Linked DNA regions of Homo sapiens: all the other regions are linked to region 3. Evidence: fine-mapped expression QTL. A gene starts in region 3. Each other region holds a variant in brackets. All regions are shown on one strand. Distances are between the middles of the regions. Region 1 has its middle 73 kb from the start of PROP1. Region 2 overlaps COL23A1 (collagen type XXIII alpha 1 chain). Region 3 holds the start of FAM153A (family with sequence similarity 153 member A).

Evidence for each region. PIP is the estimated chance that this variant, and not a neighbour inherited with it, causes the effect.
Region 1: its variant is fine-mapped to the expression of FAM153A in whole blood (TOPMed, PIP 0.96).
Region 2: its variant is fine-mapped to the expression of FAM153A in minor salivary gland (GTEx, PIP 0.97).

What each region holds. Positions count from the first base shown.
Region 1 is chr5:177,917,525-177,928,373 of GRCh38, forward strand. No RefSeq gene overlaps it. Among named protein-coding and RNA genes, the nearest start is that of PROP1, 73 kb to the right of the region's middle. The variant A/C (reference allele first, on the strand shown) is at 5,104.
Region 2 is chr5:178,575,649-178,586,497 of GRCh38, forward strand. The region is part of intron 1 of COL23A1 (collagen type XXIII alpha 1 chain); the gene reads right to left. Among named protein-coding and RNA genes, the nearest start is that of COL23A1, 9.3 kb to the right of the region's middle. RefSeq lists an enhancer at 6,878-7,377. The variant AAGACATCCTT/A (reference allele first, on the strand shown) is at 5,958.
Region 3 is chr5:177,779,010-177,788,313 of GRCh38, forward strand. FAM153A (family with sequence similarity 153 member A) reads right to left here and starts at 3,890. Exons shown (of 23, transcript NM_001413826.1): 1 at 3,734-3,890; 2 at 1,440-1,495.

The DNA of each region.
Region 1 (10,849 bases), 140 kb after region 3:
AAGATACAGGCCTATCAGATTGTCTATTTCTCTTTGTGTGAGTTTTGGTAGATTGTGTCCTTCAAGTAAATGGTCAATTTCAATTAAGTTATTAAATTTTGGACATAGAGTTGTTGATGCTCTTTTTATTTTTTTCTTTTTTCTTCTGTGTAATTATGGGTAATTTCTATGTCTTCAAGTTCACTAATCTTTTTTTCTGCGATGTCTCATCTGCTCTTAATCTTATACAATATATTTTTCCTCTTAAACATTATAAATTTTATCTCTAGAAGTTTGATTTGGGTATTTGGTATATCTTCCATATCTCTACCTAATGTTGAATTTATAGAGCATAATTTTCATAACTGTTTTAATGTACTTTGATGATTTTTTTTTTTTTGAAATGGAGTCTTGTTCTGTTGCCCAGGCTGGAGTGCAGTGGCACAGTCTTGGCTCACTGGAGCCTTTGCCTCATGGGTTCAAGCCATTCTCCTACCTCAGCCTCATGAGTACCTGGGATTACAGGTGCCTGCCATGACACCTAGCTTATTTCTGTATTTTTAGTAGAGATGGGGTTTTGCCATGTTGGCCAGGCTGGTCTCAAACTCTTGGCCTCAAATGATCCACCTGCCTTAGCCTCCCAAAGTGCTGGGATTATAGGCATAAGCCACTGCACCCAGCCTTTCTTTGCTAATTCTTACATCTGTGTCAGTTCTTGGTCAGTTTGATTTATTGATTATTGTCCTCATTATAGTTTGTGTTTTTGCCACCTCTATGCATGCTTGATAATCCCTGATGATTGAATGCCATATGTGAATTTTACTTTGTCAGGTGTTTAATATGTTTGTATTTTTATAAATATTTGCTCTGGAATGCAATTTACTTGGAAATAGTTTGATCTTCCTGGGGTCTTGCTTTTATTATTTGTTAGGAAGGTTTAGAGCGATGCTTAGTCTAGGACTAATTATTCCACATGACTAAAGAAAGACCCTTGTGAGTGCTCCACCCAATGATCCGTGAATTGTTCGATTTTAACGTCCGCCTGGTGTCAGTAAGCACTGTTCTTAGCCCTGTGTGAGTGCGAGATACTACTGCTTTGAATCCTTTCAGATGTTTGTTTGTTTGTTTGTTTCCACAGCCTCAGGTTTCTTTTATATTTTGTTTGTTTTAGAGATGAGTTCTCACTGTGTTGCCCAGGCTGGAGTGCAGTGGCTATTCACAGGCATGATCATCACACACTACAGTCTTGAACTCCTGAGCTCAAGCGATCCTCCCACCTCAGCCTCCTGAGTAGCTGGGACTGTAGGTGTGTGCCCACCATGCCTGGCCTAGCCTCAGGTATTTTTATTGCATACATGAGTTGACCGATACTCTGCCGTTTCCATGAGGGAGACCCACTGCAGATTTCTGGTGCTCTCTCTCTGGGCAGTTACCTTTTCTCTGCAATCTGCTCTAGAAACTCTGCTTTTGTCTCCCTTCCTGGAGTGGAAAATCTTAAGACAAAAGGGAGATCGTAGGTAGATATCAAGAAGAATCTAGTAGAAGAAATTTCTTACTCTCATATGCATCCACAGGCCAATGGAGATATTCAGCCCCAGAAAGTAAAAAGAAGCTTGCTTTCCAAATGATTCATCAGTTAGTGTTTTCTTTCAATGAATGGAAGATTTTAACACAAACAAGAGTTTGTAGGCAGACATTGAGAAGAAGCTCTATCTCCTCAATATAGGGAGTCTGCTGGGATCTGCCTCAGTTCGCCTGCGCTGGGTTATGGTTGGGAATCTCTGTTAATACGGTGATTGGGGAAAATTACAGGGTTTGTCTTATTTTGCATCTCTCAGAGATCACTGTCCTTTGTTGTTGTCTGGTGTCCAGTGTCTTGAAAACTGCTATTTCATTATTTTATTTATATATAAATATATGTATTTTATATATAAAATATTAGATATATGTATATATATATATTTGAGACAGGGTCTCGCTCTGTTGCTCAGGCTGGAGTGCAGTGGTGTGATCTTGGCTCCCTGCAACCTCCGCCTCCTGGGCTCAAGCAATTCTTCTGCCTCAGCTTCCCAAGTAGCTGGGATTACAGGCACCTGCCACCATGCTGGGCTAATTTTTGTATTTTTAGTAAAGATGAGTTTTCACCATGTTGGCCAGGCTGGTATCGAACTCCTGGCCTCAAGTGATCCACCCACCTTGGCCTCCCAAAGTGCTGGGATTACAAGTGTGAGCCACTGTTCCCTGGCCTATTTCATATATTTTTAATGGTTTCTTGGTTGTTTTCAGTGGTAGGATAAATCAAGATTCTGTTACTTCATCTTGGCTAGAAGCAGAAATTCTTTAAGTTTTTATTGTGAGAATTTTCAAAGATACAGAGTCGTTAAAAGAATGATACAATGATTATTTGTATACTTAGCACCTGGATTCAGGAACTGTGTGTGTGAGTGTGTGTGTGTGTGTGTGTGCACGCACGCCTGCCATGTTTATATATTTGCTGGACCATTTGAAACTAAATTGTAGAGGTATCAGGACATTTCACCACTAAATCACTAACTACATTGGCCTGAAACTCCTAAAAATAAGGGCAGTCTCCTGCATAATCACACCACCAGTATCACACCTAAGAAGATGAAATCATTCCCTTTATCATCTGTATTAGTTATCTGCTGCTGGGTAACAAAATACTCCAAAACATAGCATTTAACACCACAAATATTTTTATCTCACAGTGCCCGACGGTTAGAAATCTGAAAGCAGCTTAGCTGGATGGTTCTGGCTCAGAGTCTCTCATGAGGTTGCAATAAAGCTTCCAGCTGAAGCAGACGTCTCCAGGCTTGTTCAGTGGCTGATGTCTGGAAGCCTGAGGTTCTTTCTCCGTTGCCCGATCTAGTCTACCTGAGCATTGTCACAACGTGGCAGATGCCTTCACCAAAAGCAAAGGATCTTTGTGTGTTTGTGTGTGGTCTGTTTGTTTATTTGTTTTCTGGTCGAGGCCCTGGGGTTTGCTGAGCCTTCCCTATTATAGATGAAAAGACCAAGGCCTAATGAGGGGAAACGTCTTGCCTGAGGACACCCAGCCATTCTCTGCTTAGATGCATATGCATTATGAAACCCAAAGGTCCTCTGGCACTGTGCGCTCCAGAACAGAGCCCTCCGCAAACACTGTATTTGAGCTTCACATTTGAAATATGGATTTGAGCATTGTAATAAACAGAACAAAAACCCTTGGATATATTGCATACTAAATGTTAGCATCTGGAGATGGCCAGCACAGTTTCTTCTGCCATTAACTCAGTTGTCAGTAAGTTTGACACTGAAGTTTGTCCTGCTATCTCTGTACAAGTAAAGAGGACCCTAAAAATTGCAAGCAAAGCAAGGTTCTAAATACTGCTAGGATTTTCAACTGCTATTACTTGTTGACCTGGGATTTTCTTAATATATTTGCAACTTTAAAAAGTTTAAAAGTTTTGAAGCTTAAAGTCAGTGCTGAGGTTGAGACATGACTAAATCTGTCATCCATGATATCTAATTTCTTTGTTTGTTTGTTTGTTTTTTCAGACAGAGTCTCGTTCTGTCACCCAGCCTGGTGTGCAGTGGTTCAAGCCATTCTCCTGCCTCAGCCTCCCGAGTAGCTGGGATTACAGGCGCCCACCACCACGCCCAGCTAATTTTTGTATGTTTGGTAGAGACGGGGTTTCACCATGTTGGCCAGGCTGGTCTCAAACTCCTGACCTCAAGCGACCCACCCGCCTCGGCCTCCCAGAGTTTTGCGATTACAGGCGTGAGCCACCACGCCCAGCGGAATTTCTTATTCTTTTTGATCTATCAAAACAACCTCATTGTTCTCAATGACTGACCTTATAATAAGTAAATGTTATAGAACATACAGTGTCATTTTCCTTTTCCAGTAGAGGAAGATTACATTTCCCAGAGTTTCTTGCCTTTGAATAGAGGCCTGTGACTGGATGCTGAGGGCCCCTGGGATGTGGGCAGACATGGAGTTTGTGGCTTCTTCCCCTTACACAGAGGCCAGAGCTGTATCATGGCAGAACCACAGATGGTGGGAGGGTGGGTCTCTGGACCACTGGTTGAGGGGTAGAGAAGATCTGCTAAGAAGAGTTCCCTGACCTGCACCGAACAGTGACAGGAGCAAGAAGCAAACCTTTGTGTGTTAAGCCACTGAGATATTGGGGTTTATTTATTACAGCAGATTCTGGTCTATCCTGACTAATACTGGATCAAACAAATAACATTTTTTGCAAATCAAAACCACAATGAGATACCATCTCACGCCAGTTAGGAAGGAGGTTATTAAAAAGTCAGGAAACAACAGATGCTGGCGAGGCTTTGGAGAAATAGGAACACTTTTACGCTATTGGTGGGAGTGTAAATTAGTTCAACCATTGTGGAAGACAGTATGGTGATTCCTCAAGGATCTAGAACCAGAAATACCATTTGACCCAGCAATCCCATTACTGGGTATATACCCAAAGGATGATAAAGCATTCTACTATAAAGACACATGCACAGGTATGTTTACTGCAGCACTATTTACAATAGCAAAGACTTGGAACCAACCCAAATGCCCATCAATGATAGATTGGATAAAGAAAATGTGGCACATACACACCATGGAATACTATGCAGCCATAAAAAATGAGTTCATGTCCTTTGCAGGGACATGGATAGAGCTGGAAACCATCATCCTCAGCAAACTTAACACAGGAACAGAAAACCAAACACCGCATGTTCTCACTCATAAGTGGGAGTTGAGCAATGAGGACACATGGACACAGGGAGGGGAACATCACACACCGGGGCCTGTTGGGGGGTGAGGGGCCAGGGGAGGGACAGCATTAGGACAAATACCTAATGCATGTGGGGCTTAAAACCTAGATGATGGGTTGATAGGTGCAGCAAACCACCATGACACATGTATACCTATGTAACAAACCTGCATGTTCTGCACATGTATCCCAGAGCGTAAAGTAAAATAAAAATTAAACACAAGTAACATTTCTAATAAAATACAGCTCTTATCTGTTCTGTGTTTTGGGTTCCATGTATTGTTTATTGAAAAGTAAAAAAGTTTTCTGCTACAAAAGGTATCAAAATCAGCAATTG[A/C]GTTTGAAGTCAGAATCTTACAGGTAGGGAACTCAAGGGCTGGAGAGGAGAAATAATTTGTCCAGGGTCACATAGCTGAGGCAGGGCTAAAATCTCGCAGAGGGACATCTATAGTTTTATCCTGTCCTTTCTTTTGGTAACAGCAGCTGAATTTCCTCATCTTCCTGCTCAGGCCACATGCTTCATATGGGACTCATTCTCATCCCTCAGCTCCAGGCCTGGTGAATCTATATCGTCTATCACCCAAGCCTCAGTGATTAGCTTGAGGATGGATGCATGACCCAGTCCAGACCAATCACAGCGAATCCCTGGGTTTTTGCTGGAGCTGCTCTCCGTGGATAGTTGAATCAATAGGATATAAGTCTGGAGCTCCTGGGTGCTATCTCAGTATCTCTAGGTTGAGAATGCAGCTAACACAGAGGAAAGCAGAGCTGAAATGTGGAGAGAGCCAGACGATGCTTGATGGTGTTTGAGCACCTGGATCCAGCCATGCCTGAAGTTGGAGCTTTTAGTTACATGAACCAATAAGTTCCCTTTTGGTTTATGTCAGTTTTGACTGGTATTCTGACCTACACATACGGTTTTGTGCTTTTTTTCACCAAGGGACAGGAATTACTGTATTTTTCTGTTTTACTGATAAGGAAATGGAGGCTCAGTCCATTTGTAATCAGATGCTTCAAGTCTCACCAGATTCAAGGCTTGATGACCTCTCTTTTGTGTTGGGAATGCCCCACACAGGAACTCTTGTTTGCTTCTGCCCCCTGCTTCCGTGCAGACACACTCTATCCTGTTTCACAAGGGGGTGGTAAACCACTACAGAGTAGGTGCTAAAACATCGCTGAAATGAAATAAGGAAAGAATACCCCTTTAAAGAAACGGTGTAAAGTGTATAATGAGGCGATTCATCAAAAAATGCAAATGACTTAGCCCTAAAAGATACCAACTTCACTAATAATTAAGAAATACAAATAAAACAGCTATCATCTTTCACTCATGAGTTTGTCAAAGAGCTAAAGGTTTCCTGACAGCTGAGGGCAGGGAAATAGTCTCTTTCCTGGGCTGAGGCAGTAGGAGGGGAAGGGGCACAGCCTCTTTGGAGGGCACTGTGGCAATGTCTGTGAAATGTAAACAGTGTACAAGCCATTTGCCCTCCAGTTGAGAATGTATTCTACAAAGAAACTCCAACAAATACGCAGAGATGCAAGTAAAAGACTGTCCAGTAGAGAATTATTTTTAATAGCCAAAACCAAAACTGAAAGAAAACAAAACAAAACTGGAAACAAATGTCCACCAAAATGGGTCTACACGAACCCCAGTACATCCAAGACATGGAAAACATTTTAGCTGCAAAAAAGAATGAGGTAGCCCCAGATGTGTGGGGGTGGAAAGGTGCCCAGGGTATACCATGTCGTTAGGGGAGAACCGGATGTGTGATATGATGCTATTTATGCTGAAAATGAAATCTTACCAGAGTTAAGATGAAGATAAGTTGTGAAGTAGAATTAGGGGGTCAGGGGACTTCGTTTTCAATGAATTAATCTTTACAATTTGATTTTTTAAAATTATGAAAATAAGCACCTTACTATTTGTTTACTCATTTGAATACCCAATAATGCACAAAAATTCAGAAGGTACAAGGTGGAGATGTATAATTCTGCAGTTCTCTCAACTATCTGATACAGAATTAATTTATTCCCGGCATGCATTTAGTGTATTTAGAAGAAGGAGGAGAAGTGAGTGAGAAAGGGTGGGGGACACAGGCAGCGGCTGCTCTGCGGTCGGCAGCTGTGGTCAGGTGTGGAGGTGGGCTGCCCTTTTTGGGGTCACTCTATCCTTGGTTTCCTGGCATCAGGCCTTCCTAACCCCGCTGGAGCAGTAGTGAAGGACTTTGGTGATGCCCTGCCCATGGCTCCTGGCTGTGGTTCTTCTTGGTCTGGGTCCCACATCTCAGGGCTACAGGCAGTGAGGCGCTGGAATCCCCCAGGACTGTCCTGCTTCTTGCCAGCTCCCCTCCAGCCAGGCCTGCCTGGCGGATGCCCAAACACTCATCAGGCAAGACAGGTCTGTAGGCAAATATTGATCCCTGTGCGGCTGCGGGCGGTGAGGGGGCAGCAGGTGTGGCACAGAGTCCTGTTTACCTGCCGCTGAGCCTGGCGGGCGCTGCCTATTTGCTGAGCTCCCTTCCCGGCCTGGCTCAGGTGAGGCGAGCTCTGCCCTCTTTCTCCCTCCCTCCTCCCTCTGCTGTGCTGTTCAAGGGGGCTAGTCATTCTTCCCACCTCTTTGCTGGGCTGACTGCTGCTCGTTCTTGTGTCTCAGCTTCCACACTCCCTCTTCAGGGCCTCCCTGTCTACCCTCACTCCAGAGTGGCCGTTGCCACGGCCCACAGTTCCCCACCTACCAGGTTAGTGTTGCTGTTCTCTGCTAGATGCCAGATGAGCAGAGACAGGGACAGTTTTGCTCACCACTATTTCTCCAGCCCCTCCCTTAGGGCCTGGCACTCGGGAGGTGCTCCTCAAGTATTTGAGTGTCAGCCTGAATGAAGGCAGGCAGAGAGCCCTGCATGGGCAAAGGCACAGAGGTGTGACAGAGGGTAGTGAGGGGAGGGGGGCGGTGACGATGTATGGTGGGGAGCGGCAGGACAGGAGGCTGGAAAGTGAGGTGGGGTACTGAGCACCTCCCTGTCCTCCCCTTACTCTGAAAGCCTTTGAATGCCACATCTGGGAGTTCAGATTTTATCTGGTCAGAAATGGGAAATTGTTGGGTAAAGAAAATGCAAATAATACAACCAATGAGAGAATGACAAGCCAGATCCTTCATGCTGAATGGTAAATTCTGAAGTTCCTACAGTGGCCTGTGAGGCCCTGTAGCATCTGCTGCCCACCACACCCCTTCCCCACCTCCTTCCCCTACTCGCTGCAGCCACACTGGCCTGCTTGCTGTTTCCTGAACTTCACAGGTATAATTCAGCCTCAGGGCCTGCTGTGGTCCAACTGTGTCCTTCTGAATCTATGTTGAAACCTAATCCCCAGTGTGAGGGTATTAGGAAGGGGGCCTTTGGGAGGTGAGTAGGTCATGAGGGTGGAGCCCTCACAAATGGAATTAGTGCCCTCATCAAAGAGGCCCACCTTGTCCTTTCCACTGTGTGGGGACATGGTGAGAAAGTGCCATCTGGGAACCAGAAAGCAAGCTGTCTGTCGTTAGACACCGAATCTGCTGGTGCCCTGATCTTGGACTTCGCAGCTTCCAGAATGGTTAGAAGTCAATTACTTGTTTATAAGCTTCCCATTTTATGGTATTTTGTTAGAGCAGCCCCAACAGACTAAGGGCCTTTGCACTTGCTGTTTCTCTGCCCAGATGCTTTTCCCTTGGATATCATGGTTTATCTCCTTTCTTTGTTTGAACCTTAGCCTCCTATGGCACCTTACCAGAGAGGCCTTCCATGACACCATGAACAAAGGAGCGTCACCCCATGCCCCCATGCCCTGATCCTGCTTTATTTTCCTCTCTAGTATTTGTGTCTGTTTACTTGTCTAGTGTATGTCTTTTCCCCAGGGATGTCAGCTCTAAGAAGGCAGGAATATGTCATTTCTCTGGTTCCCTGCTGTGTCCTCTGAGCCCAGAACATGTACCTTTAGGCTCAATAAATGCTTGTAGAATAAATGAATGAATGACTGTGTAGTATTAAGCTAAGCCACCCCAGTCCTGGAATGATGTTAACTGTTGCTCACATGCTCTGTCCTGTTGCCAGATCCCACACACAGCTTTGAGCTCCTTTGCTCTGCACATCAGCCAGGTGGGGAGTGCAGGTCAACATTATTATCTGCCTTAAAAAATAATTATCAATGGCAAAAAACATCATGATCACCTGGACAGAAACCAAAATGAAATGCCTGCAGGCTCCTGACTTGAGCAAATCAATTTCTAAAATATGATGTGCAGGAATTGTGACAAAGAGGATGGAGTCTGCATTTCGAGACAGGTTTTCCCTGTGTTCAATTCCCAGCTCAGCTATTTACTTGCTCTGTGACCTGGGACCATTCAGGCCCCTTCTGTGAGCCTCAGCTATCCCTTCTGTCAATGGAGATAATTATTCCCTTGAAGAGATCTAGTGAAGAAGGCATTTGGACATAGGCATTTCCTGGGCTGCACCATCTACTGTGTATCCTTTTTGGTGCCTGCATAATATTCCACCAAGTAGAGTCACAGGCTTTGTTTAATCAGGTGGCTATTTCCAGACGTGGTAACAATAGCCTCTATTTACTGATCCTGCTAAGCGCCAGGCCAAGCACTGCACCTTCCTCATTTCTCCTTCAGTCCTCACTGCAGCCCCATCAGGTGGGTGCTGTTAATATTTCCATTTTGCACATGAGGTTAGGCAGCTTGCCCAAGGCCACGCAGCCCCACTAAATGGAAGATATGGAGTTGAAAGCCAAGTTGTCAAATCCAAGAGCTTTCATCTCTGTGCTTTGGTGGGACTTTTGTCCCCCATTTTGCAGATGGAAAATGAGGCTTGGGGAGGCCAGCAACTTGCCCAGGGCAACAGCGAGCAGAGCTGGGATGAGTCAGAATCCAAGTCTACCAATTGAGATGGAGTCTCACTCTGTCACCCAGGCTAGAGTGCAGCAGCGCAATCTCGGCTCACTGCAACCTCCACCTCCTGGGTTCAAGCAGTTCTCCTGCCTCAGCCTCCCGAGTAGCTGGGACTACAGGCATGCACCATGACACCGGCTAGTTTTTGTATTTTTAGTAGAGATGGTGTTTCACCATGTTGGCCAGGCTGGTCTCAAAATCCTGACCTCAAGTGATCCACATGCCTGGGCCTCCCGAAGTGCTAGGATTACAGGCGTGAGCCACTGCACTGGCTCAAGTCTACCAGTTCTTAACTTGTGCTTTCCTCCAGACCTACCTTCGTACGCTGGGACAGTATCCATGGGTCTCACTTTTCCTGAAGCGGGACAGTTAAGTGGCTGAGGAGGGAGTGGCCCTCTAGTTTCTGCCCCATACCTAGCTGAAGGCTTCAGGATAAGGAGAATAGTCACTGGTGAGCAGAGGAAACCTATTTCTGCTCTGGAAATGGCTCTTCTCTCCCTTTCTCTTCCCCCACCTCCCCCTGCTACCCCCCAGAGTTCTGTACCAATTAATCAGCAGACAATGGAAGCTCCAGCTGGGACCAAGTGGGCTGGACTCATTAGTGCAGAATGACATTAATATCAAAAATCTTCTGAGACAAATGCAATGATTCAGGGCAGACGCCTATGGAGGGCTGGCTCAGAAGCTGGTGTGGGTGATGGTACCGTGGTCCAAGACAGAGAGAGCCGTGCATATGTGGGTGGACAACCAGGCCGGGTCCCCGGGATGCCTGAGGGGAAGAGGGGGCAAAGCAGCTCTGCCTTGGGCAGGGTCCCTGTCCTCTTGTGCAGCCTGACTTCTCCCTCCTCCCTGCTTGGGGGGCCTGCATGGGTCACTGAGTCACCGAAACCCTGGGCAGGCTGGAGAGGCAGCGAGGCATGGAGGCCTTCAGGGCTGGATGGGCTGGGGCCGGGTCCCAGCTGCATCTCCTCTCCCCTCTCCCTGTGGCTCCAGCAACTCGCTTCCTGTCTTTGGGCCTCTGTGTTTCTTCATCTCAACTATGGGGTGATGATAGCTGCCTCTCAGGCTGGTGAGAGGATCATGGAATGAGGTGGACACATTTTGTAGAATGTGGACTAGAGGGGAGCGAAGGGCATCTTCACCATCTCCTCCTTCT
Region 2 (10,849 bases), 800 kb after region 3:
CCTGTGCTCTTCCCATAGACAAGGCACCTGCCACCTGGTCCTCACTATTCAGGAGACTGATTGCTGTGAGAGCAGAAACAGAACGCAGGACAGTTCCTGGGAAAGGCAAGAAGAGTGCATGAGCCATTGTGTTGGGGGTGAGGAGAAGGGGCGCAGGACAGGAAGGAAGCGGAGACCAGGTCCACCTTCACTTGCTCCGAGTTTTGCCAGGCATATGTGTCCTCAGAGAAACTCACATACACCAGGTGTTCGGAATATGACCGTAGCCACAACTACTTCACAATCTTCCAAGCGAGCAAGTCAATCCATTGATTCCTCTAGTAGCGATGGATAAAAACCCAACTCAAATTGGCCTGGACAGTGATGTCGAGAGGGGCTCGGTCACGAAGCCGCAGTGCTTTTGGCAGTCCCTCAATACCCCTTCAGACTGTGTTTCTCCTTGCGCAGCAAGTCGATGCTGGGAGCTCCAACTTACAGCCGTTGGGGGTGATTTTGCGAAGGTAGTTTTTTCAAGCAAAGTTCAGTTCCCTAAAGCATACTGGCTGAAAAAGTCTTGCCCTGCTGCCCAATAGCCCACTGGCGTTGCCATTCATTATCCTTTTTTTTTAGACGGAGTCTCACTCTTGTCGCCCCAGGCTGGAGTCCAGTGGCATGATGTTAGCTCACTGCAACCTCCGCCTCCCGGGTTCAACCGATTCTCCTGCCTCACCCTCCCAAGTAGCTGGGACTACAGGCGCCCCCCACCACGCCTGATTTTTGTATTTTTAGTAGAGACGGGGTTTCGCCATACTGGCGAGGCTGGTCTCGAACTCCTGACCTCGTGATCCACCCGCCTCGGCCTCCCAAAGTGCTGGGATTACGGGCGTGAGCCACCCACCGAGCCCGTCCTCATTATTTTTCAAAGACACACACGGCTTCTCAGAACCCGCCCTCCAGGGTTCACCATGCTGGGCTGGCGCAGAGACCCATCCAGGCGGTAGGAGCGGGGACAGGCGCGGGGTCGTGGAGGGCCCCGGGCTGTTCCTGATCCTCGAACTCTCTCCTCCCCACGGCCGCGGTCTCCTCCCCGGGCCCCGCGCGCCAGGCCCTGCGAAAAGCCCCAACGGGTCCCCCGGCGACCGCCGCGCCGGCCTCTCGGTCCTGTCCTCCGAGGCGCCAGGCCTCCGCCTCCAGCGCGGGCCTCTCGGGCAGCGCCGCCCCTCCCCCTGCGCGCACGGGAGGCCGCCTGGGTTCGGCTTTGGACCAGGCGAGCAGCGCGGCGCTGGCCGCTCTGCCGGGTCAGCCCCGCGGAGACGTCTTCCCCGCTGCGCCCCGGCCCCAGCGCAGCGCCCGGGGAGCGGCCCCTCCTCGGGCAGCGGCCGGCGCCTGTGTCCCTAGCGCGGTACTGCTTCTGCCTGAGGACTCCCCGCCGGGGTCCTCCCTGTCGCCGTCTGCGCCTCCGCGCCCTGTGGGCCGAGGCCCCGGCGCTCCTCGCTCAGCCCAACTCCCAAGGCCCAGCGGGTCCCTGCTCTGCCGTCCGGGGATCCCGCGGGTGGTCCGGAGCCCGGGGCGCGGCGCGCCGTTCATTCCCGCGTCCTGGCGGGGCCTGCTTCTTCCCGAGCCCTCTCCCTGCGGCTGGTGGTCCCAGCGTGCTGGCCGCGTCTCCCCTCTTCTCGGGACACCAGCCCTGTTGGATCAGGGCCCCCCCACAACGACCTGTGCCACCTCATCCGCCTCTTTAAAGACCCCATCCCCAAGGGCGGCCGCATCCGGAGGCCCAGGGGTGAGGACTTCGCCACGGGAAGGAGGCACACGATTCAGCCCATGACACCGCCACCTCGGCGTGGTGCTGTAGGGGGAAGCTCAGGCACTCACCGAGGACAGGACCCGGGGAATCCGCTGGGGCTTTCAGCAGGGCCTGGCGCGCGGGGCCTGGGGAGGAGACCTGGGGAACAGCCCAGGGCCCTCCCAGAACCCGCGCCTGCCCCCCGCTGCCTGGATGGGGTCTCTGTACCAGCCCAGACCAGAGCGAGTGTCAAGGGGGCTCCTCTGGCCGCGCTGCGCCCCCGCGGGGCAGCCCCAGAAGGGCCATTGCTCAGTCCTCACCAAGACCAGCGAGGCGGATTCGGCCAGCCCCTTTCCAGAAGAGGAAGCCGAGGTTCGGAAAGGTCAACCAACTTGTCCCAGGACGCTGGCCGGTTCAGAGGCAGCTCTGGACTCAGACCCAGGCTTCCCAATTCTAAAGCCCACTGCATGAGCCGTCAGGGCCCAGCTACAGGGTCTTTCGGGGACACTTGGACGGGATAACTTCCACAGTGAGGCGATAAGGTCAGGCTGGTCCCATCTGGGGACCTTATAAAGTCTCTCACTGTCTAAGTGAGATGCCTGTACAGTGCCCACACAGCATGCACACACGTGCATGCACACACCCACATGCACACACACACTCATGCACACACACATGCATGCACACGCCCACATGCACACATTCATGCACACACACACATGCATGCACACACATGCACACACAGGCATACTTACGTGCATATGCATACATGAAACACGTGCACACATACACCCATGTACACACACATATGCACACATGCATACTCCTGGCACACACGTGCACACACACCCATGTACACACACATGCATGCATTCTCCTGGCACACACATACACACTTCCACCCTCACACTAGCTCACGCTCACACACACTCGAGTCCCCTTGACATCATGGGAATCTTCCCTTCCTGACTGCACCACAAGCCTGGTCTGAAAGGAGGCTGCAGGAGGTAATATAACCGCCCAAGCCCCACGCAAAAAGGCGCAGTTAAAGCACAGTCAAATCAATGAGCAGATCCGGCATTTTTTGTGTGATGTTCCTCCCGGGAGGCCCAAAGTTGAGTAGATTTTATTTAAACTGTCTTTTCAAATACATTCTAATTGCTTTATGCCTTGTTTCACAGCTCAGAGTTGGAAACAAATTCCATTTTAGAAGTTGCCATTACCCATTTGCAAGCACCGCCTTCCCCCACCCACCCCTGCCCCCCAAAAATTCCGTGGCTACATCAGGAGAATAGATTTTCTCATTTCCCAGTGTGAAGCGAAGCAGATGTGTGTGAAGCCTCTAGCTCACCAGGTTAACCACGAGCATTTCGCCGTGTTGCCGCCATACCGCATGATTATAAAAGCAGACTTTTTTTTTTTGAGACAGAGGACTCTCTTAATTAAAGCAAATTGATTAGGTATTTGTGTGCCCTTTCACAATGACAAATCCATACAATTATTTTCATGAATAATTTTATTTTTATTTTGGTCATGACTTTTTAAAATTAATGGAAAGTCTCAGTCTGCTCAAATGATAAACCAAAAAATGGGGTCATGAAGCAAATTCAGTCTTTGCATTTCTTCAACAACCAACTCACATTTCTCTGCTCCTTGACTCAGAGGCTGGACATGTGCTAACAGCTTTTTTGCTTCTGTATATCCTTAATAGGATGGCAGAATCCCGGTGTTAAAAGAATCTTAAAGTCAGCCGTGTCACCATGGGACCTCGATTAGCAAACAGATGTAGACATTCCTTCCAAATTCAGTCAAAGAAAAAACTCTAATACCAGCAGCCATGTTCAGGGTGTGCACGACATGCTGAGCGCTTGGGATACATCCCCTTGTTTAATTCTCACAGAAACTTTGTGAGACAAGTACTATAATCCCTGTTTAACAGATGGGCAAACTGAGGTTTGGAAAAACACTCATTTACCGGAGGTCACACAGCTGGAAAATAGCAGTGCTGGGATGTGAACCTGGGTGTCCTCAAGGCTGAAGTCTTTGTTTGTTTGTTTTGAGACGGAGTCTTGCTCTGTCGCCCAGGATAGAGTGTGGTGGCGAGATCTCGGCTCACTACAACCTCTGCCTCCCGGGTTCAAGAGATTCTCCTGCCTCAGCTTCCCGAGTAGCTCGGATTACAGACACCCACTACCGCGCACGGCTGATTTTTGTACTTTTAGGAGAGACGGGGTTTCACCATGTTTGCCAGGCTGGTCTCGAACTCTTGACCTTGTGATCCACCTGCCTCAGACTCCCAAAGTGCTGGGATTACAGGCATGAGCCACCGCGTCTGGCCAAGGCTGAAGTCTTCCCTGCCACTCCACGCATCCATCACTTACAGATGTCTACAAGGATGTCCACACTCGCAGAAAAAGCTGCTGCTCAAAGCCAAATCATTGTTTCCACCAGGTCTGCCATGAGGCTGTGGAAAGGGCTAGGGATTAGGAGTGAGGTTACTGGGTCACCTAGGTTCAGGTGCCCATTGCCACCAGGGGCCAATCGCTGCCCCTCTCTGGGAGGCTGGATCCCATCTTACCCACGATAGAGCAGCTGTAGAGAGAGGAGGCTGTTGAGAAACTAGAGGACATGAGGCCGGGCATGGTGGCTCACACCTGTAATCCCAGCACTTTGGGAGGCCAAGGCGGGTGGATCACTTGAGATCAGGAGTTAGAGAACAGTCTGGCCAACATGGTGAAACTCCATCTCTACTAAAAATACAAAACTTAGCCGGGTGTGATGGCGCATGCCTGTAATCCCAGCTACTCCAGAGGCTGAGGCAGTAGAATCACTTGAACCTGAGAGGCAGAGGCTGCAGTGAGCCGAGATCGTGCCATTGCACTCCAGCCTGGGCAACAGACTGAGACTCCATCTCAAAAAAAAAAAAAAGAAAGAAAGAAACTAGAGGACATGTGAATCCTCTGCCCAGGACACACATGGGACGCACACAGTTGTTTCTCCTATAGCCTCTAGAAGTACGCCGACACGTGACTTTCAGAGGACATCTGCAAGCTTTTTTTTTTTTCCCCAATGGTTCGTGCTTAGTCCTGAAATATGTTTCTGGACATGATGAAGGGATGTTCTCTGCGTGCCTATGTCAACAGTTAAAGATTAATCCTGATTCAACACATGATGAAAACTGCATAAGGGAGAAAGCTGGAGGTGGTGTGTGGCCTCTGGAGAATCTTCCCAAACTGAATTACATTCGTTCACATAACGACAAATCACAGTGAGGACCAAGCACGGTGCCTGGCACCACTAAATGCTGCTCAAGAAAGGTTTCTGGCCGGGTGTGGTTGGCTCATGCCTGTAATCTCAACACTTTGGAAGGCCAAGGTGGGAGGGCTGCTTGAGTCCAGCAGTGAAAGACCAGCCTGGTCAACACAGCAAGACAATAACTTTACAAATTAGCCAGCTGTGGTGGTGCTCACCTGTAGTCCCAGATACTCGGGAGGCTGAGGCGGAAGGATCACCTGAGTCCAGGAGCGGAGGCTGCAGTGAGCTGTCATCACACCACTGCACACCTGCCTGGGTGACAGAGCGAGACTCTATCTCAAAAAGAAATAAAGTTTCCACACCAAACTGATACAGGGGTTTCATTCTGAAATGAAACTTTCAAACTTAAAGGCTTTCTTTGTTATCAATTGCTTTTTGCTTTCGACAACAATGATAAATCCAACTGAAATTAAAAATTCAACTAAAAGATATATTGAATCCACGTTGCCCATTATAAAACTTGAAGCACAATTTCATAATGGTCCCACAGCTTCCGAATACCACAGGAGGAGAAACCTGTCTGTCTCAAACTCAGATGTTCTAAAATTAAAACGAGGCTGAGCGTGGTGGCTCATGCCTGTAATCCCAGCACTTTGGGAGGCCAAGGCAGGCAAATCACCTGAGGTCAGGAGTTCAAGACCATCCTGGCCAACATGGTGAAACTCCAACTCTACTAAAAATACAAAAATTAGCCAGGCATGGTGGCACACACCTGTAATCCCAGCTACTCGGGAGGCTGAGGCAGGAGAATCGCTTGAACCCGGGAGACAGAGGTTGCAGTGAGCCAAGATCATGCCACTGCACTCCAGCCTGGGCGACAGAGTGAGATTCCGTCTCAAAAAAAAAAAAAAAAATTAAAACGAAAAACAAAGCCCGA[AAGACATCCTT/A]CTGTATCCAGTTACTCCACATCCCAAAGAATAACAGAAGAAAGAAACTTTCCCCTCAAAACCACTGACTGTACCATTATCTGCACTAACAAAAATAGGGGGAGGGTGTATGCCACGTTGATAGTAGGATGCAGATTTTCTTGATGGGATATGCAAGATTTTCTTGATGGGATATACGGTACAGTCATCACACATGACCCTAAAGATGAGCCATCACCTGGAAAAATGTGTCTGATGTACAGTTTAAAAGCAAGGTAAAAATGGTATGCATTCTGTGGTTAAAATTAGGTAAGCAAATATCTGTCTACATGATGGATGAGAAAGGATTGCGCAGAAAGTTAAACAGCCCTTGGTTTAGGATGGTAAGATTATAGGGTAACATTCATCATGCTAAATCAAGACATAGCTTGGTTATTTAAAAAAGAAAAAAGTGCGGGGCAGGGGGAACAGGTGCAGTAGCTTAGATCTGTAATCCCAGCATTTTGGGAGGCTGAGGCAGGAAGACTGTTTGAGGCCAGGAGTTCAAGACTGCAGTGAGCTATGATCACACGACTGCACTCCAGCCTGGGAGACAGGACGAGACTCTATCTCAAAAAAAAAAAAAAAAAAAAAAAAAAGGAAGGGAGAGAAGGATGGGCAAGCCATTATGCCATTTCCCGACCTGAGAGTCTAGGTAAAGGAGGCAGCCACAGCTCAGCGGCAGCAGGAGCTGGAGCGCTAATGGGCACGTCAAGGGGCAAGAATGCGATGTGCAGCTGCCTGGAGGAGGGCACTGTGAAGGATCTCCACCTCCCCAACACCCGCCACTGCCCCAGGGAGGGACTCAGAATTATTTCGAGAGAAGGGAGCAACGTAGAAATCTGTGGGGCAGAGAGGGCTCCTCTGAAGGTGCAGGATCACATCCACACTTCGCGAGGTCCTGAAAGCAGAGGACAGCGGGGCACAGGGCTCACAGCGCACCCCTGGCTGCGCCAGCCCCACCTCACAGCCAGAACTGAGGCTCAGAGAGGCCCCCAGGCTCCTCATCTAGAGCCTTCCCCTCCAGCCCTCAGCATTTTCCTCTTCCAGACTCCGCCCTCCAAAAGCACCAAGCAAGGCGTGACTACCCCCAGGCTACATGCACCTCACCATTCCAGGTCCCGAGGACTTGGGGTACTCCCCAGACTCCCCAACCAGGCCAGAGACATCCTCTGAGAACACTCCCCGTGAGAACATTCCCCAGGAAGCTGATGAAAGTGGGCAGAGAAACAGGGACCTGGGAGTAGGTGGCCTGACCTGGGCACACCCGCACTGTCCCAGACTGAGTGCCAAACCCACACACAGGGTTCGCAGACATTCGTCCCTTTCACTCCCTTCTTCCCAGGCAGGCTGCAAACCTAAGGGAGCTCAGGCCTGGCCCTGCGTGCTCTTCCGCCTCTGTGACATTTCTCCCCCTGTAAAACAATGTCAGTAACCTCTGTCTGTACATCTCATGAGGCTGTTGTGGGCAACTTTTAGGATTTGAAGTAACTTGTAAAGCTGACATTTTGTAAGCACAGTATATACAGAGAAACACAGATTTCGACACTGCTACCGATAAACCCAAATTTATCAATGTACATAAACCCCTAGAGAACAAGCACCCACTGGCCTCCCCACTGGATCAAAAATCCTTTCATTGAGTTTCATGCCACTGAGGTGGAATTTCTCTAGAACACAGCTCCAGCTTAGAGCCCAAGCTTCTCACCCTATTCCTTGGATGGTCACCTACTGGTTTTGCCGGCCTCATGTCCTCTCCCTTTTCTTCCAATAACACCACTCCAAATTGTCCTTTGGGATCAGCTTTCACTTCTTGGTCCCTAGAGCTCCAGTGGGGTTGATCGTGCACACACATGAACACACACACACAGACGCAGCTGAGCCTCGCCCATCGAGAGGCTGCCCTGCGGGTCTCAGTGACCAGGACGGGTAATCCGTATTGTTAGATGCAGGCTGTCTGTACTGATAAATGCAGGCAATCCACACTGGTCCATCAGAGGGAATTAGGGAATTTCTGCTGGGACTGTTGGAAAACAGAAACTAACACTAAGGATGTGAATCTGGAGTTGCTGGAAGCTTCCCTGGCACTTTATGGGGAGAGTGAGGGCATCCTTGAGAAATATGGAGCCAAGAGGAAGAAACAAAATCCAGGCACCTTGAGCCGGGCCTACACAGACACTAGCCTGGACTTCTCCGTTACTCAAGCTAATTAATAACCCCCTGCTTTCTCCCCAATTTTTATTTGTTGTTGAAACAGCCTCAGTCTGTCACCCAGGCTGGAGTGCAGTGGCGCAATCATGGCTCACTGCAACCTTAAACACCTGGGCTCGAGCAATCCTCACACCTCAGTGTCTCGAGGAGCTGGTCTACAGGCTTGCGCCACCATGCCCAGCTGATTATTATTTTTTTTGAGATGTACTCACCCAGGCTAGAGTACAGTGCCATGATCTTGGCCCACTGCAACCTCCGCCTGCCGGATTCAAGTGATTCTCGTGCCTCCCAAGTAGCTGGGATTACAGGCACATGTCACCATGCCTGGCTAAATTTGGTGTTTTTAGTAGAGACAGGGTTTCGCCATGTTGTCCAGGCTGGTCTCGAACTCCTGACCTCAGGTGATCCACCCACTTCGGCCTCCCAAAGTGCTGGGATTACAGGTGTGAGCCACTGCACCTGGCCACACACACACACACACACACACACACACACACACCTAGAAATAAATACATATAAATTTTTTTCTTTTTTTTAAATAGAGACGAGGTCTTGCTATATCATCCAAACTGGTCTTGAACTCCTGGGCTCAAGTTATGCACCCACCTTGGTCCCCCAAAGCACTGAGATTATAGGTGTGAACCACCACGCCCCAGCCTGAATTCTTTGAAATTAAGCTGCACCATCTTGGAGTCATGTCACATTGCTATTTGAGGGTAAAAGGATCCAAAGGCATCTAGAAAGGTTGAAGCTAATGGGTTGCTGCTCGGTGAGGGAAGGAGGGACAGCCTGCTCTGGAGACCATGACTGTAACTGCACCTGCTCTGGAAGGGGATTTGGAGGCCACAGTCAGATATGGCTGCTAAGAAAGCCAAGGAGCTGGGGGAAAGGCAGGATAGTAGGGGGTAACAGAGCTTCCCAGACACACCGAGTGGGTGCAGGTGCACTGTATGTGGTCTCTGGTAGACTGACTACCTTGGTCCTTCGGGGCTGGGGAGTGGCTGGTCACCTCCAGCCTAGTGTCCTCTTCCCTTCCTGCAGTGAGGGAAGTGCTACCATTCTTTGCATGTGCTATGATATGGGAAAGCTGGCAAGCAATGTCCTAGAGTGCCACCCTTAGTCACTCACTTCGGGGGCAGAACAGCATCTGCTCAAGGGTTAAAGGCCAAAGACTGCAACCAACGGGACTGTGCCAGAGACAATCCCAAACCCATCAACCTTCCCTTCAGCTGTGGCCGGCAGCACAGCTGGACAGCAGAGCCCCAGGGGAGGCAGAAATTTTGTGGTTGAAGAATGTTCCCAAAATGTGGTCCTTGGGAAACACCAAAGCAGAAGGAAGGCCCAGTTATGAGAACTTAGGCGGGCCAGTGGATGACTGAACCCCCGCTCTGCCCCACCCTCCTCTGGGGTGACAACAGAAACATTCCATGGCCCCAGCAGACACTGGGGTAACACTCCACGGCTGACCCTGGGGTAACACTTGTGGCCCCGGCTGACGCTCAGGTAACACTCTATGGCCCCAGCTGACTCTAGGGTAACACTCCGCGGCCCTGACTGATGTGTGGGTAACACTCCACAGCCCTGGTTGACACTGGGGTAACACTCCACGTCCCTGGTTGATGCTGGGGGTAACACTCCACAGCCCTGGATGACGCTGGAGTAACACTCCACGTCCCTGGATGACGCTGGAGTAACACTCCACAGCCCTGGTTGATGCTGGGGGTAACACTCCACAGCCCTGGATGGCGCTGGGGTAACACTCCACAGCCCTGGATGGCGCTGGGGTAACACTCCACAGCCCTGGATGGCGCTGGGGTAACACTCCACAGCCCTGGATGGCGCTGGGGTAATGCCCTACAGCCCTGGATGGCGCTGGGGTAACACTCCACAGCCCTGGCTGACCCTGTTGGTTGCTCCCCAGTAGCCATGCCCAGTCTTCCTTCCTACCAAAGCCTCGATTCTGTTCCAGCGGCAACACGCCCAGCCTCAGGGGATGAGTCAAGATTGGCCAAAGCCTCCTATGGCGATCGCATTACCCTTGCCAGTGAAGGGGATGGCGACCCTGTGACCTAGCTCTGGCTAGTGGCTGTAAGTCTGCCGAAAGGTGGGAAAGTTTTCCCCTGAATTGAAATTAAAGAGACAACCTCTCAAGAAGACCGCTCTCTTCCCTGCCCCCTTCCCTTCTACCCAGGCTACTCTTGGGTGAAGACATAGGTTCACAGCTGCAGCAGCCACCTTGTGACCATGAGGAAAGGACAAGAGAACGGCAGAGACTGAGTGGTACTCAGGTGTGGCCAAGTCGCTGACAGACCCAGGATGCGCTGACCGTCTTCCAAGCTTCTCCTGTAGTGTGTGCTAAGAAAGGACACTCAGATATTCTGTTACTTCCCATCAAAAGCATATTTACCATCCTGTACTTTTCCTGTCTGTTATCATATTTGCATACATGGGAGCTGTGACCACACTATCAGAGGAGAGGCAGTGGAAGAGGTTGGATGACAGAGCTGGTAAATGGTGGGACCAGGCCTCAAACTCTCTTCTGCTGATAGGAAACCTCAGGCATGGTCTGCTCTGCTCTGCCTCTGGTATAAATTCATTCAGCTTACAGATTCCCCAACCTCAGGGGCCATGCCTCAAATTTTCAAAGCCGATG
Region 3 (9,304 bases):
ATTGTGCATCATTCAAGTAACTTGCATAACTGGAAAAAAACATAACCATTGAATATAGTATAATAGTATAACTACTGATCATAGAGTTCCTTTTACTTGCTTCTAATCTTTTCATTTCTTATAAAACTAAAATATGGTTGACCCATTCAAGGCAGTTCATCACAGAACAAGTCAAAAAGCCAAAAGAATTGCATGCAAGCTGTAGGCTGTGTTATCCACTACTCCCTGCAAGCAGTGGATTTGGTCATTAACAATCAGCAGGACTTTTAACTTTGTGTGCGTGTGTGTGTGTGTGTGCGCACCCGAACGCACATGTGTGTATGTGCACGTGTGTGTGTAAACTATGACAGATAAAACCATTTTGCTTATGTAAGAATATGTAACATAACTTGTGCTTCTCACAAAGGAATTGCTTTTCTGTCTTCTGCACTCAGTAGGTATCTTCAAAAAATAATCTCCTATTCGTATGGGTGCACACTGGTTCACTTTTACAGTTCTTACTGCCATTTATTTATTCTACGAGAAAGGGATTGTTGAGTTCCCGGTTCTAAAGATACTTCCTTAGTGACACAAATTAACAGGTAATACAGTTCACCCTTGAACAGCAAGGGTTTGAGCTGCAGGAGTTCATTTATATGCAGATTTTCTTCTGCCTCTGCAACCCAGAGACAGCAAGACCAACCTCTCTTCCTTCTCAGCCTGAACAACCTGAAGATGATAAAGATGAAGACCTTTGTGAGGATCCATTTACGCTTTATGAAAAGTCAATATATTTTTCCTGCAGATTTTCTTTCTAACAGCTTCACTTGTCTAGCTTACTTTATTGTAAGAACACAGTATATAATAATGCAGCACAAATAAAATAGGTGTTAATCGACCGTTTATGTTATCAGGAAGGCTTCCAGTCAATAGTGGGCTATTAGTAGCTAAATTGGGAAAATCAAAAGTTATACTTAGATTTTCAGCTGCACTGGAATCAGAGCCCCTAACCCCCACATTATTCATGGGTCAAGTGTAATTATGTATTTACTAAATATAAACAATTTATTATAAAAATAAACAACTTATTACAAAAATGAACTAGAAGATCCATATGTATAACAAGTCCAATTTGTTACAATGTGACTATAGAGAAAACATAAATATTATATAGGATTTTCGGGATCATAATTAAGTAAATGATTTTTTTTCAGATAATACTGTTTGAGATTATAAATCAGCTACAACTACCTTCTTAAATAACTCTTAATTCCAAACTAAAGAAGTTAAATATAAGAAACTAATTTACATGTATGTATATATGTATATATACATGCAATTTACACATCTTTTTAAACTTTTCTTTTCCTTCAAAACTACCTTAATCTTACATCTTAATTTTTTTAAACCAAGAGTAGGACCACCATGAGAAATGAGAAATTCACTATCAGAAGTCTTACCTGGATTGTAAGTTTTAAGAATCTTCTTTTTAAGTTCCAAAATTTGGTGTCGAATTCTGTATATAAAAAAGTAATAAATAAAATTGCTATTTTAATACTGAAATAAAAGTTACCATATTAAATTCTTAATGTTTGGTAAATGTGTAATCAAACTGATTCTTTTTTCCTCGCTGGCTAAAACAAAATACATCTTCGCACATCAACGTACTTCTATATCTATTGTCACCTTTGATGGTCACATATTATTGCATCCTATGGATGCAACTGAAATTTACTTATAAGATCCATTCTATGGGTTCTTTTTAAAATAAGTGCTGTGAAAAACAAAGTGCATGTATCTCTATTTCCCAAGGGTATTTTAGTATAATGGAATTGAAGGGTAACGGGCATACGCATTTTTAAAATATAGTACTTACCACCAAATTATCTATTTAAAAAGTAATCAGCAACTTAAACTTCAGGCAGCAGTATAAAAAACATCCTCACACATTGTGGATAGAAAACAGTTTCATTCCTCTTTTAATTTAAATTCTTATACCAGAAAAGCAAAGGCTTTTTTTCCTATTTACATAAGAAACTTGTAGATCTGCAAAAAAGTACTTTGCCCCCTTTTACAGTTTTTGATTATTTGATTTGAAAGAATTCCCTGTAAAATGAAGATGCACTTTTCAGGCCGGGCGCGGTGGCTCACACCTGTAATCCCAGCACTTCTGGATGGCGGCTCACTGCAAGCTCCCCCTCCCGGGTTCACAGCATTCTCCTGCCTCAGCCTCCGGAGTAGCTGGGACTATGGGCGCCCACCACCACGCCCGGCTATTTTTTTTTTTTTTTTTTTTTTTTGTATTTTTAGTACAGACAGGGTTTCACCGTGTTTGCCAGGATGGTCTCAATCTCAATCTCCTGACCTCGTGATCCGCCCACCTCGGCCTCCCAAAGTGCTGGGATTACAGGCCTGAGCCACCGCGCCCAGCCCTAAAATTTTTACAAATGTCATTACAATAGTAAAAGACAGTAGGTGTCATGCAAAAATGTTAAAACCTTGATTTTTTCATTCGGCTTATGTAAAATTGATAATCACAGAAAGAGCTCACATTTTGAGAAAAATGTGTCTTCCCATTCAGGAACACAGAACCCACCTCCCACTTCCAAGTTTCCTTCTAAGAACCTTCAGTAAAGAACCGATCTACACAGGTGGATACGGATGTAAAACGGACAGTTTTAGGTGAGAGCTTTTCGCTACTGAAAATGACTCACGGTTTTTTGTTTGTTTGTTTGTTTTTCTTTTTTGGAGACGGAGTCTCGCTCTGTCGCCCAGGCTGGAGTGCAGTGGCGCCATCTCGGCTCACTGCAAGCTGCGCCTCCCGGGTTCACGCCATTCTCCTGCCTCAGCCTCCCGAGTAGCTGGGACTACAGGCGCCCGCCACCACGCCCGGCTAATTTTTTTTTTTTTTTTTGTATTTTTAGTAGAGACGGGGTTTCACCGTGTTAGCCAGGATGGTCTCGATCTCTTGACCTGGTGATCCGCCCGCCTCGGCCTCCCAAAGTGCTGGGATTACAGGCCTGAGCCACCGCGCCCGGCCGACTCACGGTATTTTTTGATAGAGGAATGAGTTCTCTCATTAGGCACCTCCTATAATGTATATAACACCATGTTTTAAACGTGTAGGTTAAAAATAACACTGTGTATGCTTAGCTTGGTGAGTTAAATCACTCACATTCTCCACCAAGCGCTCCAGCTGGGGAATTATGGGGGATGCAGAGCAGCTGAGGCTCCGTTTGGCACCACCCCTCTGAGGGTGCCCTCTGAGGCCCCATCCCAGGGGCTGCGGGGAAGCCGGGCCTGGGGACCCCCTCCCACCCTGGGCTGAGCCCCCACCCCACTGCCTGTGCTGCCTGTCCCCGGCTTCCAGGTCTCTGCTCCTGCGCGCCAGGCAGCGCTCCACTTCCGCGGCTTCGCCCTTGACAGCGCCCTGTGGATCTTCCGATTCGGTACCCCGAACCCCTGTAGACGTGGCCTAGGGAGCCCCGGACCGCCGGCCCCTGCGGCTCCCAAAGCCGAAGAACTTCTTCAAGGTGGTGAGTTCTTCTCAGACCCCCAACCACTGGCTCCTGAGCCGCGGCAGCTCCGTGTCACCTTTTCACTCCCCCTCGCCCCACACCCAGCCCCAAATCCCCAATCCAACTCCAAATCCCCTATCCAACCCCCAATCCGCGATCCAAACCCCAATCCGTGATCCAACCCCCAATCCGTGATCCAACTCAAAATCCCCGATCCAAATCCCAATCCGCGATACCAAGTCTGCGATCTAGCCCAGAATCCGCGATCCCGCCTGGTCCACCCTTCAGCAGCGACACTGGCGGCCTCCGACCTCTCAGACCTAGTGAGCCTCGCAAAGCCGCCCGGCTCCCGGAAGCCGCAGGTGCAGGCGCCGCTGGGCTCGCGGGTTCTCCTGGGCTGGCCAGGGCTGCCCCAGGACCACGGACGGAAAATCGCAGGCGCGCGGCCCACCCCGCCTTAAGGGGAGGGCCCGCCTGGCCGTGTAGCCCGCCCCGCTCCTCCTTCCGAAGAGAGATCTGGTGCTGGCATGGGCACCCCGCGGCCACCGGAGTGGCTTCCCGGATGAGCCTGGCTTCGGCGCTGACGCTCTGGCCCTGGGGGCTGCCTGGCTGGTGTCAGGTAGCGGAAGACGCCTGGAGAGTCACTCGCTCCTTCCCCCACCCGCCCCCACCGCTGCTCGTGCCAGGACGCGCAGTTTGCAGTTGCAGCTCTGGCACTGGCGCGGGATGGCGGAGCTTCCCTTGGATGGCGTCAGGGTCACTGAGTGCACAGCCTACCTGGTCTGAGGGTCTGCTCCTCCTGGACACCTCTCCGGATCCTGATCCCTGGCGCTGGGCAATCCACAGGATGAGACTCATCGGCTGCTGGCGAAGCCGACCGCCTGACTTTGCTGCCTGGGCGGCTGGCCCCGGGATCCGCGCTGCTGGGGACGCGGGCCTGGTCTGCGGTGTCCAGCCACTTGCTGCGGGCGCGCCACGTCTAGGCTGGTGGCTGCAGCCGCAGCTCCGCGCCTGCGGGGGCTAGTGGGCCTGGTACCTGATGTCCTCAGGGTCAAGTGCATCGCTCCCCCACCTGAGGGTCTGCTCTGCCTTGACCTCCTCCAAGAGCGCAGGGGCCACCGGGGAGGCAATTTAGGAATGCCTAAATGGAAGGAACTATCCTTTCTCTGTCTTTAAGAAATAAGTGGCTTTTGTTGTTGTTTTTGTGATACCCAGCTACAGCAGAAAGCAAAGGGGATGCAGAGGTGAAGGTCCACAGCCAGTTCCTCTACTGATTCCCTCCAGGCATAAATGTTCAATCTAACGGCTTTGGTTGGCACTTTCACCTCAGCACTTACCTATGCCTACAGGTTTGTTCAATGGCAACTCTTGGATTTTGAATTAATACCCAATTATTTCATATTTTAATACCCAAACTATTTTAATAGTTTACCATATCTGCAATCCTGAATTAATTTTTTCTTTGTTTATAAAACAATCACTATAGTAAGATAAAAATCACAAAACACTTCCACATTTCATTGGGCTAAAAAAGCATTAAAACATTATACGTAAAAGATAAAAAATATATTGTTTCATCATAAAAATTATGGCTTTGCAAATTTTTTTTACCTTTAGCTACATTCTTACGATTCTTTAACTTTTCACTGTTATTTTATACATTTTTAAAACAATGCATACCAGTGTTTAAAAAACAAATGCAGCATTTCATCTAGGACTGAACATATAACGCTGGTCAGCTCTTTCAGCATGGTGCAGGTGTGGGCCTCAGGCTGCTTTCTGTTTACATGTATCAAATGACATGACCATCTTAACTGCACAGATACCATCTTCTCGGCTTCTTTCTTCTCCCCCAAAACTATTTAATGTTGCTTTAATGGCAACATCAATTTAACTAGTTTTGTAATTTCTGTATTTAATTGTCACATAACATTATATCCGTTCTTTTTTTTTTTAAAAAAAAAGGAAAGCATACAATCTTAGTTGCTAGGCCAGTTCTTCTGAATCAATTTGAAATCACCTTTTTTCTCTTTCATAATAACTACTTATTTTAATCAACAAGTCAACTATTATTAGATATTAACTTATTTTTTCTAGTTAAAATTTTGCTATCTTTCAAATAATTCCAACTCTTACACACACATTTAATGTACATAACTGTAACATATACATACATAAGCACAGGTTAAGCCAGATCTAACATGAATTTAGATATGCCAAGAAAGCCACATGACCATTATTTACATAAATATGACCAGTGTTCACATTTATCAAGGCCAATGAATATTAAGGTGATTGCTTCAATAAGAAATTAGGTGAAGAATTATTTGTTGAATATTGTCAAACACTTTTTTTAACCTGTTAAAGTTATTTAAGCCTGACCCAAATAATTTTTAAACTTTTTATTCTATCATGCCTATAGACAGCTTCATATATTAACCATTTCTGCTTTCGTGGTCCTTTGAGAATGGTATCTTAGTATGTAAGTGCAATAAATAAACAACTTTTAAAGGAATAAAGAAAATTGATATAAATTAGTCTGGAAAATCTAGTCTGTAGCTGGGCAGCCAGGTGCCCCCAGCTAAACCTCAAGGGATGGTTCTGTTAAAGTGAAGAAAAGAAGAATAGTGTGTAACAGAAGCCTGCTCTGTGGCTCCAGGTTACAGCTGTGGCCACCCAATCTGCCTTGTGCCTCCTTCTTCTCACAAGTACACACTCATCCCAGCCCCAAGCAAGAAAGACCAAAGTCCCTTGCCAGGCGCGGTGGCTCACGCCTGTAATCCCAGCACTTTGGGAGGCCGAGGCGGGTGGATCACGAGGTCAGGAGATCGAAACCATCCTGGCTAACACGGTGAAACCCCGTCTCAACTAAAAATACAAAAAATTAGCCAGGCGTGGTGGTGGGCGCCTGTAGTCCCAGCAGCTACTCTGGAGGCTGAGGCAGGAGAATGGCGTGAACCCGGGAGGCGCAGTTTGCAGTGAGCCGAGATCACGCCACTGCACTCCAGCCTGGGGAACAGAGCAAGACTCTCTCTCAAAAAAAAAAAAAAAAAAAGAAAGACCAAAGGCCCCTTCCGTTACTGTATCCAACCCACAGTGCAGGTCCTGTGGGCCATGTGCTATGCATCCCACCTGCATTCCACCTGGTTCACAAGTGGCTCCTTGATGTCCAGTGACCTATGAAAAATCATTTGTTAGGCCGGACGTGGTGGTTCACGCCTGTAATCTAGCACTTTGGGAGGACAATGTGGGCGGATCACCTGAAGTCAGGAGTTTGAGACCAGCCTGGCCAACATGGTGAAACCCTGTCTCTACTAAAAATACAAAAATTAGCTGAGTATGGTGGTGGGTGCCGTAATCCCAGCTACTTGGGAGACTGAGGGAGAAGAATCGCTTTAAGCTGGGAGGTGGAGGTTGCAGTGAACCGCTATTAAACTCCACTATTCTTTATTGGGCACAACCCAGGAGGTCAACAAATGTATTTTCCTGTTTTTATTTTATTTATTTATTTTGAGACAGAGTCTCACTCTTTTGCGCATCTGCACTCTAGCCCAGGTGACAAGAGTGACACTCCATCTCAAAAAAAAAGGTAATAATAATAATTATTATTATTCGTGGACCTGCTGGGTTACACCCAATAAAGAATAGTGGTGTAGAATCAAAATAGTCCCAATAAAATTTATATATATATATTTTTTATTATACTTTAAGTTCTAGGGTACATGTGCACAACGTGCAGGTTTGTTACATATGTATACATGTGCCATGTTGGTGTGCTGCACCCATTAACTCATCATTTACATTAGGTATATCTCCTAATGCTATCCCTCCCCCCACCCCACAACAGGCCCTGGTCTGCGATGCTCCCCTTCCTGTGTGCATGTGTTCTCATTGTTCAATTCCCACCTATGAGTGAGAACATGCAGTGTTTGGTTTTTTGTCCTTCCGAGAGTTTGTTGAGAATGATGGTTTCCAGCTTCATCCATGTCCCTACAAAGGACATGAACTCATCATTTTTTATGGCTGCATAGTATTCCATGGTGTATATGTGCCACATTTTCTTAATCCAGTCTATCATTGTTGGACATTTGGGTTGGTTCCAAGTCTTTGCTATTGTGAATAGTGCCACAATAAACATACGTGTGCATGTCTTTATAGCAACATGACTTATAATCCTCTGGGTATATACTCAGTAATGGAATGGCTGGGTCAAATGGTATTTCTAGTTCTAGATCCCTGAGGAATCGCCACTCTCTCTTCCACAATGGTTGAACTAGTTTACAGTCCCACCAACAGTGTAAGTGTTCCTATTTCTCCACATCCTCTCCAGCACCTGTCGTTTCCTGACTTTTTAATGATCACCATTCTAACTGGTGTAAGATGGTATCTCATCGTGGTTTTGATTTGCATTTCTCTGATGGCCAGTGATGATGACCATTTTTTCATGTGTCTGTTGGCTGCATAAATGTCTTCTTTTGAGAAGTGTCTGTTCATATCCTTCGCCTACTTTTGATGAGGTTGTTTGATTTTTTTCTTGTAAATTTGTTTGAGTTCTTTGTAGATTCTGGGTATCAGCCCTTTAGTCAGGTGAGTAGATTGCAAAAATTTTCTCCCATTCTGTAGGTTGCCTCTTCACTCTGACGGTAGTTTTTTTTGCTGTGCAGAAGGAGCTCTTTAGTTCAATTAGATCCCATTTGTCAATTTTGGCTTTTGTTGCCATTGCTTTTGGTGTTTTAGACATGAAGCCCTTGCCCATGCCTATGTCCTGAATGGTATTGCCTAGGTTTTCTTCTAGGGTTTTTATGGTTTTAGGTCTAACATTTAAGTCTTTAATGCATCTTGAATTAATTTTTGTAAAAGGTGTAAGGAAGGGATCCAGTTTCAGCTTTCTACATATGGCTAGCCAGTTTTCCCAGCACCATATATTATATAGAGAATCCTTTCCCCATTTCTTGTTTTTGTCAGGTTTGTCAAAGATCAGATAGTTGTAGACATGTGGCATTATTTCTGAGGGCTCTGTTCTGTTCCATTGGTCTATATCTCTGTTTTGGAACCAGTACCATGCTGTTTTGGTTACTGTAGCCTTGTAGTATAGTTTGAAGTCAGGAAGCGTGATGCCTCCAGCTTTGTTCTTTTGGCTTAGGATTGACTTGGCAATGCGGGCTCTTTTTTGGTTCCATATGAACTTTAAAGTAGTTTTTTCCAATTCAGTGAAGAAAGTCATTGGTAGCTTGATGGGGATGGCATTGAATCTATAAATTACCTTGGGCAGTATGGCCATTTTCACAATATTCTTTCTACCCATGAGCATGGAATGTTCTTCCATTTGTTTATATCCTCTTTTATTTCATTGAGCAGTGGTTTGTAGTTCTCCTTGAGGAGATCCTTCACATCCCTTGGAAGTTGGATTCCTAGGTATTTTATTCCCTTTGAAGCAACTGTGAATGGGAGTTCACTCATGATTTGGCTCTCTGTTTGTCTGTTATTGGTGTATAAGAATGCTTGTGATTTTTGTACATTGATTTTGAATCCTGAGACTTTGCTGGAGTTACTTATCAGCTTAAGGAGATTTTGGGCTGAGACGATGGGGTTTTCTAGATATACAATCATGTCATTTGCAAACAGGGACAATTTGACTTCCTCTTTTCCTAATTGAATACGCTTTATTTCCTTCTGCCTGATTGCCCTGGCCAGAACTTCCAACACTATGTTGAAGAGGAGTGGTGAGAGAGGGCATCCCTGTCTTGTGCCAGTTTTCAAAGGGAATGCTTCCAGTTTTTGCCCATTCAGTATGATATTGGCTGTGG